Regions from separate parts of the Homo sapiens genome. Here region 2 is linked to region 1. A link means that fine-mapping ties the variant in region 1 to the expression of a gene that starts in the linked region. Tissue or cell type: whole blood. Region 1 holds a variant in brackets; the other region holds the start of a gene. All regions are shown on one strand. Distances are between the middles of the regions.

Region 1 (8,000 bases):
GGCTGTTTTTTTTTGTTTGTTTTTTTTTGAGACGGAGTCTCACTCTGTTGCCCAGTCTGAAGTGCAGTGGTGCGATCTGGGCTCACTGCAAGCTCCACCTCCCGGGTTCACGCCATTCTCCTGCCTCAGCCGCCTGAGTCGCTGGGACTACAGGCACCCGCCACCATGCCCAGCTAATTTTTTTGTATTTTTTAGTAGCGACAGGGTTTCACCATGTTAGCCAGGATGGTCTCCATCTCCTGACCTCGTGATCCTCCTGCCTTGGCCTCCCAAAGTGCTGGGATTACAGGCATGAGCCACCACGCCCAGCTGTTTTTTCTTAATTGATAAGTAGTTGATAAGTAGTACTGTAACTCCTGGGCTCAAGGAATCTGCCTGCCTCGGCCTCCCAAAGTGCTGGCATTACAGACGTGAGCCACAGCACCCGGCCTGCACTGTTCTATATTTGCAATTTCAAAGTGATTTCCAATTGAAATAGCTTGCCCCACTTGTTCCTTCTTGCCCTGTCCACTGTGGAGACCTCTCCCTGACCCCTGACGTCTGGGTCCCCGACTGGCTGGGCAGTGAGCCCCGAGGCCTTCCTGTGCCAGCATACTGCTCTTTTTCAGGAGATGGTAGCTGACCTGGAGCTGCAGCAAGACCTCATAGTGCCTCTCGGCCACACCCCTTCCCAGGAGCACTTCCTCTTTGAGATTTTCCGCAGACGGCTCCAGGCTCTGACAAGCGGGTGGAGCGTGGCTGCCAGCCTTCAGAGACAGAGGGAGCTGCTAATGTACAAACGGTAACACCTACTACCACCTGGGCAGGGCAGCACCACCTGGGCAGGGCAGCATCTCATGACGGTCCTAGAGGTTCTTTGTAGTGAGTTTGTTTCCCGTTACTTACTTGTCTGTGTGTCCCCACCCCAAGCCTGTCCATTTCTGTGGCACATGCCACGGAGAAGAGGATCTGGAGGGTTGAAAGTACTTTTGATTAAAACCTTCCAGCCAAGCGAGGTGGTTCATGCCTGTAATCCTAGCATTTTGGGAGGCTGAGGTGAGTGGATCACCTGAGGTCAGGAGTTTGAGACCAGCCTGACCAACATGGCGAAACGCCATGTCTACTAAAAATACAAAAAAAATACAAAAAAATTTAGCTAGGTGTGGTGGCGGGCACCTGTAATCCCAGCTACTCGGGAGACTGAGGCAGGAGAGTGGTGTGAACCTGGGAGGCAGAGGTTTCAGTGAGCCGAGATCACGCCATTGCACACCAGCCTGGGCAACAGAGCGAGACTCTGTCTCAACAACAACAACAAAACCTTCCTGCTCAGACGTGGAGGGACGTCGCAGAAGGAGCTCTTGTGAAAGTAGGGAAAAGTGTTCAGAAATGCCCACGGCGGCTGCATTTATAAGAAGCAGCGTGGAGTCATTTAATTTTACAGTCATAGGGAATTGCTTCACTAGACAGACTGGTGCGTCATCCACTTGGTTATCGTGTAACTGTCAGAAGTTGTTGGTTATTATGTAACTGTTAAAAGTTGTTTGTTTGGTAACACATTTTGAATGCAGTGGGCCAAACACAGTATAGGGGAGGTGGGCTCAGAGTGCAGGCTTTGGATGGGACAGAGGGACACAGGCCAAGGCTCTGGTTCCAACAGTGGCCCTGGGTTTCAGGGTGGTGGTTGCTGCTCTGAGAGTCTGAGCCCTTGGGAAGGAGCAGAGTGTACGCTGTGCTGTCGCCACCAATACAGCCCCTTCTTTCCAGGATCCTCCTCCGCCTGCCTTCGTCTGTCCTCTGCGGCAGCAGCTTCCAGGCAGAACAGCCCATCACTGCCAGATGCGAGCAGTTCTTCCACTTGGTCAACTCTGAGATGGTAGGTGCCCCGTGTGCACGTGTCCGTCCGATCTGTCAGTGCCTGTGGCGCTAACAGCAGCTCTTGCAGCCTCCATGCGTGTACTGACCGTGTGAATTACTGAGGAAAGGGTTCAAAGTCAAATAGGGAACAGTGTCTGGAATGCCATGTGAGGGAGGACCCCACCCACAGCCAGGACGGCGACCAGCACATCACCAAACCAGCTGTAGGTTGCCTTCTCCCAAGTTTGAGTTCCTTTAGTTTCCCTCAAGTTTTAATGATTTTGACACATGGAATCGTACAGACCATTTTGTGTGCCACGCACCTCGGTTCATTTATTTCTAATCTCAACATGCTTCATGTGTAAAAAAAGCCTTGTGGTGATCTGACTACCGCTGTTGCCTGCCAGGCAGCCCAGTTATCTTCCATTTTAGACACTGCCCAGCGTGAGTTGCAGGGTGATCTTAACCAGCAGGCTGGGTGCGGTGGCTCACGCCCGTAATCCCAGCACTCTGGAAAGGTGGGGGATCACTTGAGCCCAGGAGTTCGAGACCAGCCTGGGCAACATGACAAAACCCTGTTTCTACAAAAAATAGAAAAATTAGCTGGGTATGGTGGTGCACGCCTGTACTCCCACCTACTTGAGAGGCTGGGTCAGGAGGAGTAATTGAGCCCAGGAGGCAGAGTTGCACTGAGCCAAGATCCCACCACTACACTCCAGCCTGGGTGACAGAGCGAAACTCTTGTCTCAAATAAAAAGAAGTGACACTCGCTGTGGGGACGGGCAGCGTAGGGACCCAGTTGGTCAGAGCTGGGGAGACGGATACCAGCCCCTCCCACTCTACAGAGAGCAGCTTCTGCTCCCGAAGGCCTTTTTCTTGTTTTTGAAGATGCACAAATGTGAGAGATGGAATTCAGGTTCCATGCCAGCTGTGCAGCATTTTATATTTTTATTTATTTATTTATTTATTTATTTTTTGAGACAGAGTCTTGCTCTGTCGCCCAGGCTGGAGTGCAGCAGTGAAATCTTGGCTCACCCTGCAACCTCCGCCTCCCAGGTTCAAGCGATTCTCCTGCCTCAGCCTCCTGAGTAGCTGGGACTACAGGTGCCTGCCGCCATGACCGGCTAAGTTTTGTATTTTTAGTAGAGATGACGTTTTACCATGTTGGTCAGTCTGGTCTTGAACTCCTGACCTCGTGATCCACCCGCCTTGGCCTCCCAAAGTGCTGGGATTACAGGTGTGAGCCCGGCCTTGTGCAGCACTTCAAAATGTGACAAGGAAAGCAGAGGACGTGAGACTAGCAAAAGCTTTCAGAAAATCACTATGGTCTCCTTTGAATTCTTATGAATGGCTGTTTTTCAGAAAGCTCTCAGTTGGCACGTGACAGCCGACAGACAGGAAAACACCATAGACAGCACTTGGTTAGTGAAGGGACCAGAGGATGGTTGGCCCTTGGTATTAGTGTCGTCCTCACCACAGTTCTACGCTCCGGGTGCGTCCCCTTCCCTGCGGCTGCTTGTGCCTCCCTGGCTTCTTCCTGGAGCCTACAAGACTGTTTGGGCCAGAGCTGGTGGGCTGCAGGATCTGGCCGCCCAGGGAAGCCGTTAAGTTTCAGGACAGCACAGCCAGGGCGCCAGGCCCGGTCAGCCCAGGAGCACCATCCATGGTGGCCACGCCAAGCCTTAGCGAGTGTTTTTCTCAAAACTGAATCCACAGCAGCCACTCTGCATGTTGGTCTCGCCTCTCTTCCTGTGGGCTTTTCTTACCTGCCTTGAACTCTTTTGCAGAGAAACTTCTGCTCCCACGGAGGTGCCCTGACACAGGACATCACTGCCCACTTCTTCAGGGTGAGATGCTCCCTCAGCCCCTCTCGTGGCCTTCTCAGAACGCCGTGGGTGGATCCTCCTGTCAGCTTCCTGTGAGTTCCTTCACTCTACTAGTTGTGGGTCCTCACAAACCGCTGACCTCCTGCTGCGTTCTCTCCTGCAGGGCCTCCTGAACGCCTGTCTGCGGAGCAGAGACCCCTCCCTGATGGTCGACTTCATACTGGCCAAGTGCCAGACGAAATGCCCCTTAATTTTGACCTCTGCTCTGGTGGGTCAGCTGTCTTGTTTGGTGTTTTGTTTTGGGGATGAGTGGGAGACTCCACAGCTGCCTCTGGCATCTCTGCAGCACGTCTCCATCACGGGTGTTACCATCTCAGGGAAAATGCATCAGGAGACATGGAAGCCACAGTTAAAGATGCCAGCTCATAGCAGATGAGGGCCGCACATCCTGAGTTCCCAGAACCGTCCCTGCCCCCACCGCCGTCACCATGGCACCCGCAGGACTTCTCCCCTGTGGACCCCACTCAGACCCCACGGGCACCTTCATGTCCACAGGGGTGCAGGGCTTGTTTGTTCACGGTCTTGGGTTGTGCACTGGCTGGAGGCTGTACGGTGGCTGCCTGTGCCCCGTCACGAGAGCATGACTGTGGCCCACTTGCGCCTGACTATGCTTTCTTGGGACTTCGGAGCAGAGACTTCACCTCAGCTCCCGCCAGAGCTCAGCAGGCTCCCCTAGCAGCCCAGGGTCCCGAGAGTGGGAGGAGGGCAGCATTTCCCTCACTTCCCTGGCGGCTCACTTAGTCCTGAAGACCACAGCTGTCGCCCTTCCTTCTCGGTCATCAGGGACAGGAGGGCCTTTTTCTCCGCAGCACGGCATGTTCCCCAGGGAGCTCCCCAAGCAGGCTGCATTTGCACCGAGTTGTAGCTCAGTTGGTGGAATTCGTGAGAAATGAACTCTTCGGTGTTTAGAACGCCA[C/T]CTCTCAGCTGAGGGCATCCAAGGACCAGGCATTCCCAGCTCAGGGCAGTGTGGTCTCTTCACTGTTTCGTTCCCAGCTCAGAGGAGTGTGGTCCCTTCACTGTTTCGTTCCCAGCTCAGGGCAGTGTGGTCCCTTCACTGTTTTGTTCCCAGCTCAGAGGAGTGTGGTCCCTTCACTGTTTTGTTCCCAGCTCAGGGCAGTGTGGTCCCTTCACTGTTTTGTTCCCAGCTCAGAGGAGTGTGGTCCCTTCACTGTTTCGTTCCCAGCTCAGGGCAGTGTGGTCCCTTCACTGTTTTGTTCCCAGCTCAGAGGAGTGTGGTCCCTTCACTGTTTCGTTCCCAGCTCAGGGCAGTGTGGTCCCTTCACTGTTTCGTTCCCAGCTCAGAGGAGTGTGGTCCCTTCACTGTTTTGTTCCCAGCTCAGAGGAGTGTGGTCCCTTCACTGTTTTGTTCCCAGCTCAGAGGAGTGTGGTCCCTTCACTGTTTCATTCCCAGCTCAGGGGACTGTGGTCCCTTCACTGTTTCGTTCCCAGCTCAGGGGAGTGTGGTCCCTTCACTGTTGCGTTAGGCCAGGCTCTTCCTTCTCCAAATTCCACGTCTTCCATGAGTGTGGGTAATAAATGCCTCATGGAACTGCTTTGAGCCTTAATTGACGTAAAAAATACTGGCTTTGGAGTTCCAGAGCGCAGGGCGAGTGTGGGCCTGTAGTGGCCTGTAGGAGCACTGGGGGCTTGTCATGGCTGGGGCAGCGGAGGTGTGTCCATCTCAGCCACCCTCATCTGTGTGCTGGTGCTCTCTCCATAGGTGTGGTGGCCGAGCCTGGAGCCTGTGCTGCTCTGCCGGTGGAGGAGACACTGCCAGAGCCCGCTGCCCCGGGAACTGCAGAAGCTACAAGAAGGCCGGCAGTTTGCCAGCGAGTACGTGTGGGTGGTGAGATGGGGTGTGCCCGCCCAGATGCACTTCGGGACCTGCTCAAGGTCATCTCCTAAACACCCTGGCTTGCTTGAGAGAAGCGGTGTGGGCAGCCTCTCGTGTGAGCAGGGAGAAAAGAACCGAGTTCTCGTGGTGGTGGGCGCCTGTAATCCCAACTACTGGGGAGGCCGAGGCAGGAGAATCAGTTGAACCCAGGAGGTGGAGTTTCCAGTGAGCCGAGATCACTCCAACGGCCAATAGAGCAAGACTCTGTCCAGAAAAAAAACAAAAAAAAAAACAGCCTCTGCCAGTGTCTCGTCTGAGTGAGGAACGGCCTCTCCCAGGCTCCCGTCTGAGTGAGGAGCTCGAGTGATTCCTTTGCACCTGCTCCCCTTCCTCTTAAATCTAATGTGGGCTCCTAGAGTGCACCGCGTGCTGGTAGGGTCAGTGTCATGGGGACCTCAGGGATGCAGATTCTCAGCCTACCCTGACCTGTCGACCCCAGTCAGATATTCACGGGTCCTTGCAAACCATCAAGCTCCTGGCGCAATCCAGGCTCACACACCCTTCTGAGGACCACAGAGCTGACAGCCACTCCACCTGCTGAATGTGGGTGCCGTGTTCTTAAGGGGTCGTCAGAGGGCACTGCTAGTACCCATCCTGCCTCCTTGGAGAACACCTTACTTTGTGACTAGTTTTGAATCACTGATGCCACACCGGGTCCCCTCAGGGTTTGGCTGCTCGCCGTCTGCTGAAAGAAGAGAAGAGGGCCCCGGCGCGGTGGCGCACACCTGTAATCCCAGCACTTTGGGAGGCCAAGGCAGGTGGATCACCTGAGGTCAGGAGTTTGAGACCAGCCTGGCCAACATGTGAAACAATCTCTACTGAAAATACAGAAATGAGCTGGGTGTGATAGTGTGCGCCTGTAGTCCCAGCTACTCAGGAGGCTGAGGCAGGAGAATTGCTTGAACCCAGGAGGTGGAGGTTGCAGTGAGCCGAGATCATGCCATTGTAGTCCAGCATGGGCAATGAGAGAGAAACTCCATCTCAAAAAAGGAGAAAGCAGGTCACACCTCCAGTTCTAATTCTACAAACACAGATCAGATTGTCTGAAGTTTTGTTTTTTGTTTTGTTTTGTTTGAGACAGAGTTTCACTCTTGTCACCCACCCTAGAGTGAGATGGCACGATCTCGGCTCACCATGACCTCCGCCTCCCAGGTTCAAGCGATCCTCCTGCCTCAGTCTCCTGAGTAGCTGGGATTACAGGCGTGAGCCACCATGCCTGGCTAATTTTGTATTTTTAGTAGAGACAGGGTTTCTCCACGTTGGTCAGGCTGGTCTCGAACTCCCGACCTCAGGTGATCTGCCTGCCTCAGCCTCCCAAAGTGCTGGGATTACAGGCGTGAACCACCACGCCCTGCCTCGTTTTTGTTTATTTGAGATTGAGTCTCACTGTGTTGCCCAGGCAGATCTCAAACTGCTGGGCTTAAGCGATCCTCCTGAAGTGCTATGATTGCAGATGTGAACCGTCATGCCCAGCTTATTTAAAGTCTCTTAAACCACAGCATTGTTTCATTAATTTCCTACCAATTTTTTAACCAGCCAGAAAACTCAGACACCACACTGGGGCCAGAGCCAGGCAGTCCTTTGTTCTCTGTTGTAGGAGGGAATGCCTGATCCACAGGGCCAGGCATGGGCAACTGAGGAAAATGAGGCCTCTTCTTCCAAAATGTAGGCAGCTGGGGCCCAAGAGCACAGGGCAAGGTAGACAGGACCAGGCCAGCTGCCTGCTCAGTCAGCAGCTCTCAGAACGCCAGGATGCTGTGGGGGCAGCACCAGCACCTGCCCACACTCTCACGTGGACCTGGGGGATGCAGACCTAGTTTCTGATGGTCCTGAAACCCTTCTCTGTCCTCTGATGGAAAGGCAGGCCCCAAAGGTGACAGGTGGGAATAAGGACTTGGTTTCTATGGCGTGGTTGTATGGTTGTAAGGCCCTGCAATGACCCCGTTCTCTCTGTCCCAGTTTCCTCTCCCCTGAGGCTGCCTCCCCAGCACCCAACCCGGACTGGCTCTCAGCTGCTGCACTGCACTTTGCGATTCAACAAGTCAGGGAAGAAAACATCAGGAAGCAGCTAAAGAAGCTGGACTGCGAGAGAGAGGAGGCAAGATAGGAAATTCTTTTACTGATTTATTTTCTCGCAAGCTTGGTTTCAATCAGTGCTATTTCTCTGGGCTTGTCTGATGAACTGTTTTTCTAAAGACAAATATGTGGCTTGGAGCAAGACTTTTTTTTTTTTTTTTTTTTTTTGTATTTTTAGTAGAGACGGGGTTTCACTGTGTTAGCCAGGATGGTCTCGATCTCCTGACCCCGTGATCCTCCCGCCTTGGCCTCCCAAAGTGCTGGGATTACAGGCGTGAGCCACCACGCCCAGCTGGCTTGGAGTAAGACTT
Region 2 (8,170 bases), 25 kb after region 1:
AGACCAGCCTGGGCAAAAGAGTGAGACCCTGTCTCTACTTAAAATAAGTTTTCTTTGTTTTGTTTTTTTCTTTTTTAGACAGAATCTTGCTCTGTCGGTCAGGCCAGAGCGTAGTGGTAGAATCTCAGCTCACTGCAATCTCCGCCTCCCAGGGTCAAGCGATTCTCCTGCCTCAGCCTCCCAAGTAGCTGGGCCTACAGGCAACCACAGCCACATCCAGCTAATTTTTTGTATTTTTAGTAGAGATGGGGTTTCACCGTGTTAGTCAGGATGGTCTCGATCTCCTGACCCCGTGATCCGCCTACCTCAGCATCCCAGAGTGCTGGGATTACAGGCGTGAACCACTGCACTTGGCCTAAAATAAGTTTTAAAAAGTATTGTTCTTGGCTGGGCGCGGTGGTTCACACCTGTAATCCCAGCATTCTGGGAGGCTGATGCAGGTGGATCACGAGGTCAGGAGTTCAAGACCAAGCCTGGCCAACATGGTGAAACCCCATCTCTACTAAAAATACAAAAATTAGGTGGGCGTAGTGGCGCGTGCCCATCATCCCAGCTACTCGGGAGGCTGAGGCAGGTGGATCACGAGGTCAGGAGTTCGAGACCAAGCCTGGCCAACATGGTGAAACCCCATCTCTACTAAAAATACAAAAATTAGGTGGGCGTGGTGGCACGTGCCCGTCATCCCAGCTACTCGGGAGGCTGAGGCAGGTGGATCACGAGGTCAGGAGTTCGAGACCAAGCCTGGCCCACATGGTGAAACCCCATCTCTACTAAAAATACAAAAATTAGGTGGGCGTGGTGGCATGTGCCTGTCATCCCAGCTACTCGGGAGGCTGAGGTAGCGGTGAGCCAAGATGGCACCACCGCACTCCAGCCTGGGCTACAAAACGAGACTCTGTCTCAAAAATAAATAAACACATAGATAGATAGATAAGTAGGTAAATAAATAGATAAATAGGTAGATAAGTAGATACATAGATATACAGATAGGTAGGTAGATAGAGAGAGACAAAGAAGTAGGAAGATAGATAGGTAGGTAGGTAGATAGATACACAGATAGATAGAATTGTTCTCAACACACTGCATACAAGTTTACAGAGCCAAGCAGCTCTAAGATGTGACACTCACAATCCCGTTCCTACCTGAGGCCCCCGAGCCGCACTGTCTCATCTGTGCACCCGTATCTAGCTAAACTATCTGGGTAGCTGTGTTTCTGTTTGGGACAGAGTCTTGCTCTGTCACCCAGGCTGGAGTACGGTTGTGCGATGTCGGCTCACTGCAACTTCCGCCTCCCAGGCTGAAGTGATTCTCGTGCCTCAGCCTCCAGAGTAGCTGGGATTACAGATGCCCACCACCATACCTGGCTAGTTTTTGTATTTTTATTAGCGATGGGGTTTCGCTATGTTGGCCAGGTTGGTCTTGATCTCGTGACCTCAAGTGATCCACCCACCTCAGCCTCCCAAAGTGCTGGGATTACAGGTAGCTACGCTTTTCGGAAGCTCCCCTCAAGACTCAAAGTGGGAACTGAGTGCTCAGGTGGGGACAGGTGCACAGAGCACACACAGGACAAGAGGCCGGAGGGAAACTGGCCCTGGCCCTCCTAAAACAACATCCAGGAGCAGCTGCACCAGCCCACAGTGCTATGGGTTCTGGGGCCCAAACAAGGGCCTTGTGTTTCCCCTCAGCCTGTCAGCAGAGAAAGCTGCGCCACACTGGCCCACACCAGGGTGTCACCAGGCGGCTGGCTGAGTGCCAGGAAATGACCTGCAGCTGGCCCAGGGCAGCAGCCGCAGAGGCAACGGCCATTCTTTTCTCCCACATCCACAGACAAGGCCCTATTCTTCCCTCTTCCTCAGTCCCCTCAGCCCCAAGCACAGGCTTAGAAAAAGACTCGACGGCTGATGAGCGTGTCTCCACAGAAACTGCTGGAACAGAGCCCTGCTCACAGAGGAGCAAGAGGCGGAGACAGGCTGGCCGCCCCTCCCTGCTCTCTGGATGTGGTGAGCAGCCGCAGGCAGAAGCCCCAAGCTCTGCTCCTTCTCACACCACACCCCAGCCACCACCTAGAGCAGTGGAGACATTCACTTTCTGCTGAAAACCCTGCCCCACTGAGGAGCACACATCCTGGTCTAGCACCAGCAAGAGGTGCCTCCTACCTGGGGCCCTGCAAAGGGGCAGGCTTGGCTGAGGTGGGAAGCCCGACCTGGGCCCCACCGCGTCGCTGTCCGAAGGAGGCTGGGCCACATCCGTGCTGGGCAGGGTCTTGGTCTCAGCCCCAACTGGGGTCCCTGTCCCTCTACCCTGGGAGGTCTGAGGGGCATCCCCAGGGTTCCACCCTCGGTGCTGGGGCAGCCGTGGCGCCGTCTCTTTGTCCCATGGCCACTTGACTGCCAGCGCACTGTCCAGCAAGAAGGCCTTGCAGCTGGAGCTGGTATCCATGGTGTAGTCGTGGCCCTGGTCGCAGCCCCACACGACCTGGATGACGCCGCAGTACTCGGAGGACAGTGTCCTCTGAAGGTGGGGCAGGGCCCCGCAGCTGGCCGCATGTCCATGCACCCACCCCACCAAGCCGTGCAGGCACTGGGGGCTGGATGTGATCAGATCCACTGCAGAGAGTCAACAGAGATGTCAGATCCACGGCTGGTCGGCACCCAGCCCACCCTCCACCGGGGGAGGACTCACCCAGACACGCTCCCTCCTCTGCCCCTGTTGGGGGCTGGGCACCGACCCTGCAAAGGATCAGTGTGGCCATGAGCAGGACAAGCAGGCGGAGGTTCACAGCGCTCGTCGTACGGGACCCTCTCGAGATCTCAAACCTCAGCGGTCCCCATAGGCAACTTTCTCTTCCCTCACCCCAGCTCCTCCCAGTTCATCTCTCCACAACAGTCCCAGGGCTGTTGGCACTGAACCCGGGCATGGCCCATTCCCCCCACCCAGAGGCTCCCGCGGAGGCACGCCCTGTCCCTCTCTCAACACCCGTCACACTGCAGTACTGACAGCCTGAACGTGCTCTGAACAGACTAGGGCGTACTTTGCACAAGGCTTCCGGCGACCAGCCGGGGAGGCGTTGACCCTCTGCAGGAAGGACTTGAGAAGGCTGTGGCACTGGTAGAACTGGGCGTGGCAGCTCTTGCAGACAAACGGAGACAAGGTGGGGTCCTGGCGGACAGCCACACCAAGCAGGCGCTGGAAGTCCCGTACGAGCACGCGCTCCTCTGCGGATGGCCTCTCCATGCTCGCTCCAGGCGCCCTCTCGGAGATGCTGCGCAGGCTTCTCGAGGAAAACTTCCCGTGGCAGAGGCGACAGTGACCCATGGCGAGAGCCCGGCCTGCTCCTGCACAGAGCGGCAGGAAGTGTTAGCAGCTGGCAAAGGAGGCTCCTGAGCACAGGGCGTCCCGGACTCCAGGTCCGAGGGCAGCGCCTGCAGCGCCCTTCGCGCGGCTCCCGGACACAGCAAGCGGCTCGGGCGCGCGGCTCTCGGCGGGACAAGCCGCCCTGTGGGGGATGTGGCCGCTGGTCCAAGAAATCTTTCAAATTTCAAAGGCCTCTAAGGCCTCTCCAGCGAAGCAACTTCAAGAGTGAAACCTGGAACTGCACCCTCCTCCCAGCGACCGCGAGACCCGGGGCAGGCGCTGCGCCCTCCAGGAAACGCCGCGGTTTCCTGTCTGCCAATTGCAGGTGCCGCCTCCTTTCCGGCTCCGCGAGGGCACGAAGCAGGGGAGGGCGATTCCCACGCGCGGGCACCCCAGGGCGACCTGCCCGCGGTGACAGCGCTCCTCACGCCGGGTCCCTTCTGGCCGAGCCCGCGGCCGGGGAGGCCGGGCCGGCGACGCCGGCGTCACGGAGCGCGAGGAAAACCGAGCCGGCCGCCCAGCGCCTATCCCGACGCAGCCCCGAGTCCGCTACGCCCTTGGCCGGGTGGAGGAGAGGCCGCGCCGGCTTCCGGGCGTCAGTGCGGCTCCTCCCACGAGCAACCCCTGCCGCGACCCCAACCCGCCACGCCCGGGCCGCGGACCCACCTGCCTCGTCCGCGCCGTCCTCGCCCGCGTCCCCGCAGGACCCCACCGGGCCCCAGGCGCGCCGCGCCGTCGCCCCGTCCACCCTCGGCCCACCGCTAAGGGAAGGGCGGCCCCGAGTCCGGCTGACGCCGCCGCCGCCGTCCGAGGCCCCGCACTGTCGGGACGACCCAGGAGACAGGAAGCGGCCCAGCCGGTCCCGCTTCATGGCAGCGGAGGACGCCAGCAGAATCCCGCGGGTGCTGCCCGGCCCGAGGTTCCTAGAGGACCCGGCGTTAGGCTCCGCTCGGCGCGCTGGAAGCGAGGCGGGGCGGGGGAGGGGCGGAGCGAGAAGCAAAGCGAGGCGGGCGGGGCGGGCCAGGGGCCAGGGGCGGGACCCCGCCGGCCGAGGTTCCACCCGCGGTGCCAGCGCCCCCGCTCGTACCGCTCCCCTCTCGGGCCCGAGGGCGGCCGTGCCCGCCTCTGTCGCCAATGGAGCGCTGGCCTGGGGCGGGGCGGTGGGCGGAGGGGCTCGCCGACACCTCACGACGAGTCCTCCAGGGAGAGGCGACGCGGCCCTCACCGCCTCTTACCGTGGGAGACGGAGGCGCGGGGCGGGCAGGCGCCGGCGGAGGCCACGCGGCGCGCAGGTGGCGGGCGGGCTGCAGAAAGGGGAGGGGGGCCGGGGTCTCACGTAGAGAGGGGCCTGGCTGCCGCGGTTAGACGCCCATGGCAACTCCGTGAGGGGCCCTTCTCGCCAGCCCCGTCTCAAGACGGCGAAGAGGCCCGGCTCCGTCGCGACAACCCACCCGGACTCTGCCGCCCCCGCCACTAACACCCGTGGGGCCCGCAGTACGCGCGGAGGGGGCCCGTCGCCGGAAGTGCGGCCGCGTCCCTTCCTGCGGTCCGCTGCTCGGGCGGCTCCAGCACCAGCGCCGGCTGCGTTCCGGGCCTCCGGTCGCCCGTCCAGCCCCTCGGCTACCGCCGCCGCCTCCCCCGCTCGGCGCCATGGCCGCTGCGGCCGGGGACGGCACGGTGAAGCCGCTGCAGAGCGCCATGAAGCTTGCCAACGGGGCCATCGAGCTGGACACCGGCAACCGGCCCCGGGTGAGGCGGGGCGGGGGCGGGGCTTGGCCGCTGAGGGTGGCCCCTGGAGGGACCCCCGCCCGGGGAGGGCGAGGACGGGGCCGGCTCGGGCTGGAGACTTGGGAGCGGGCGCCAGCCGGGATCCCGGGCCGCGGTTCCCGGGCGAGGACGGGGGCGGGGCGCAGCCGGGCGTGCAGTGACCTTGGACAGCTCAGATCCTGCGGACCTTGGCTTTCCACTCCGCTCGCTGAGCCGGTGCATCACAGCCTGGGCTCCACCTGTAGAGGAGATGTAGCAGGAGGGTCCGCCAGGCCACCTTCCAAAATCCGAGTGACGGGCAGGTCCGTGCGTTCGTGCATTTTTCTGGGCAGAGATGGTAGATTTAATCCGGTTGCCACAGGGGACGGCATGCAGAGAAGGCCACATACCTGCTCATTTGTGATGCTGTTTGCAGTCGTCTTAGGAAGGAAAAGCAGGCCGGAGGGGTGTGGCCCGTTCCTGAGATGGGGCCGAATCTAAGGTTGGCGACCAGGTAGAGAAGCTGGCCCAGCCACACCCGGCTGCCCAAGGAGGGAAGGAGCCTGCCTGTGCCTAGGAGAAGCCTCGTTCCTGAATCTGCTGCTTTCCCCAAGTTGGTTTTTAGGGCAGCAGGTGCCCCCGCAAGTCAGAAATCCTGCCTGGATTATATTTCGTCTTTCTCTCTGAGGCATAGACTTAAAGATAGGAAACTTAACAGCTAGGGATAAAACAAAAAAACATAGCATATTGCTGGGCGCTGTGGTTCACGCCTGTAATCCTGACACTTTGGGAGGCCCAGGCGGTGGATCACCTGAGGTGAGGAGTTTGAGACCAGCCTGGCCAACGTGGTGAAACCCCGTCTCTACTAAAAATACAAAAATTAGCTGGGTGTGGCGGTGCACACCTGTAATCCTAGCTCCTTGGGAGGCTGAGGGATGAGAATCACTTGAACCCAGGAGGCGGAGGTTGCAGTGACTCGAGATCCTGCCACTGCACTCCAGCCTGGGCGACAGAGTGAGACTCTGTCTCAACAAAACAAAACAAACCACCATTCTGTGGTTCCAATGACCTGTGCCTTGTCAGAGGGGTCACACAGCCTTGAAAGGTAACAGTTCTAGGCTCCTGTGTGCACTGGAAATACGTAACTCGCAGGTTCTGGGAAAGGGATTTCTCGGAACTTAAACCGGGAAGTGATTTGAAAACTTCCAGTATCACTCCCTTTATCCTCTCAGAAAAGTATTTTTTTAAGCCACTGAATGAATCACCCTTGAGTTGCACAAGAAGGAAACATTGCATAGAATGAAAAATGACAGCAAACTGCTGAGGTCACTTCCCCAGGCCCACTGAATGAGAATATCAGTTCCTGTGCTGGAGAGAAAGGCAGTCAGAGGAGAAAATGAGGTCCAGCTCGTCCCTGGCTCTCTCTCTCTCTCAGGTCCTGATGTCTTTTCCAAGTCTGGAGAGCAGCGATGCTGCCTGTGCCCTGCGCAGAAAACCGTGTTCCGGCTGCAGCTAACCACCGCAGGCTCAATGTCTCTGGGTGTATCTCAGAGATAAGCAGGTGGTGGTGTTCCTTGCTTATCCCACAAGGGCACCTGGCCGGAATAATGGAGTCACTTCCCTCCACTGGCCTGACCCCACTCTTTCTCTTTCCTGGACACAGGAGGCATACACGGAATACCTGAGGAGCATCCACTATATCTCCCAGGTGTTACTAGAAGAAGTGGAAACCACTAAAGGTACGGCTCAGCCAGCCGGGCGCGGTGGCTCACGCCTGTAATCCCAGCACTGTGGGAGGCAGAGGCGGGCTATCACCTGAGGTCAGGAGATCGAAACCATCCTGGCTAACATGGTGAAACCCCGTCTCTACTAAAAATCTAAAAAATCAGCTGGGCCTGGTGGCGGGTGTCTGTAGTCCCAGCTACTCGGGAGGCTGAGGCAGGAGAATTGCTTGAACCCGGGAGCAGAGGTTGCAGTGAGCCGAGATCACCCCATTGTACTCCAGCCTGGAACAAGAGCGAAACTCCGTCTCAAAAAAAAAAAAAAGAAAAGAAAAAGAAAAAGGCATGGCTGAGCCCTGCTGCTTCCTCCATGCTGGACAAATTGTGGGCATCCTAGCCCTTGATGGGTGCCAGGCTTCGGCGGGGGTCTCTTGTATCCTTCTAGCCTGACCATTTGTAGTAGGTGGACCAGCCCACACTCAGTGTGATATAGTGGCAGGAAGGGACCAGCGTTGTGGATAAGAAGATGGAGACTGGGGTGTGGCAAGACACTGGCTCCAGTGAGCGGCACAGACGTGGGGCAGCATTCCAGCTGTGGGGTGTGCAAAGGCCCTGAAATAGGAGTGGGCGGGGTGGGGCTGTGTGCATGCCTTGGGTGGAACTGGGGCCGTTCTGGTGTGCAGGGAAACTTGAAGAGACTTTGAGCTTTGAGGGAGAGGACAGCCTGGGAGTGGAGCCTCAGGTGAGGACTGAGGATGGCAGTGGCCAGACCACCCAGGATGGGAGCAGTAAACGGCCTCGGGGTGCGTCCTGAAGGTGGAACAGAGCAGACTTGCAGGAGGCAGATGGGGCAGGAGCAAACTGGCAAGGAGAGGAATAGCAAGTTCCGCAATGAACACATTAAGTTTGAGAGGCCAGCAGCCGCTGCACAAAGGATCACAGAGGTCAGGGGGAGCCACTGGACATAGAGCACAGAGGTCAGGGGGAGCCACTGGACGTGGGATCACAGAGGTCAGGGGGACCCACTGGACGTGGGAGCACAGAGGTCGGGGGAGCCACTGGACGTGGGAGCACAGAGGTCGGGGGAGCCACTGGACGTGGGAGCACAGAGGTCGGGGGAGCCACTGGACGTGGGATCACAGAGGTCGGGGGAGCCCCTGGACGTGGGATCACAGAGGTCGGGGCAGCCACTGGACGTAGGATCACACAGGTCAGGGGGAGCTAACAGTTGCCCCAGCTCCCTAGGGAGCCGGTGAGCTCGGCTGAGCTCTGGCGCTCCAAGATTGAGGAGTTGGGTGGAGGAGTGGCAGAGGATCCCCTGGGGAGAGCAAAGTCCCAGAAGACAGAGG

What was found. PIP is the estimated chance that this variant, and not a neighbour inherited with it, causes the effect.
Region 2: it holds the start of ZNF276, and the variant in region 1 is fine-mapped to the expression of ZNF276 in whole blood (INTERVAL, PIP above 0.99).

Annotation. Positions count from the first base shown.
Region 1 is chr16:89,742,511-89,750,510 of GRCh38, reverse strand. FANCA (FA complementation group A) reads left to right here. Exons shown (of 43, transcript NM_000135.4): 32 at 609-781; 33 at 1,744-1,852; 34 at 3,621-3,680; 35 at 3,823-3,927; 36 at 5,440-5,552; 37 at 7,573-7,711. Among named protein-coding and RNA genes, the nearest start is that of ZNF276, 25 kb to the right of the region's middle. RefSeq lists enhancers at 3,641-3,810, 6,207-6,376, 6,873-7,042. The variant C/T (reference allele first, on the strand shown) is at 4,636.
Region 2 is chr16:89,717,696-89,725,865 of GRCh38, reverse strand. It overlaps ZNF276 (zinc finger protein 276), which reads right to left and starts at 4,329. Exons shown (of 11, transcript NM_001113525.2): 1 at 4,021-4,329; 2 at 3,032-3,335; 3 at 2,683-2,729; 4 at 2,157-2,606. The coding sequence starts at 4,225. It overlaps VPS9D1 (VPS9 domain containing 1), which reads left to right and starts at 4,968. Exons shown (of 15, transcript NM_004913.3): 1 at 4,968-5,103; 2 at 6,764-6,839. The coding sequence starts at 5,005. VPS9D1-AS1 (VPS9D1 antisense RNA 1) reads right to left here. Exons shown (of 4, transcript NR_036480.1): 4 at 7,701-8,170. RefSeq lists silencers at 3,702-4,161, 4,242-5,361, a cis regulatory region at 6,671 and an enhancer at 6,587-6,756.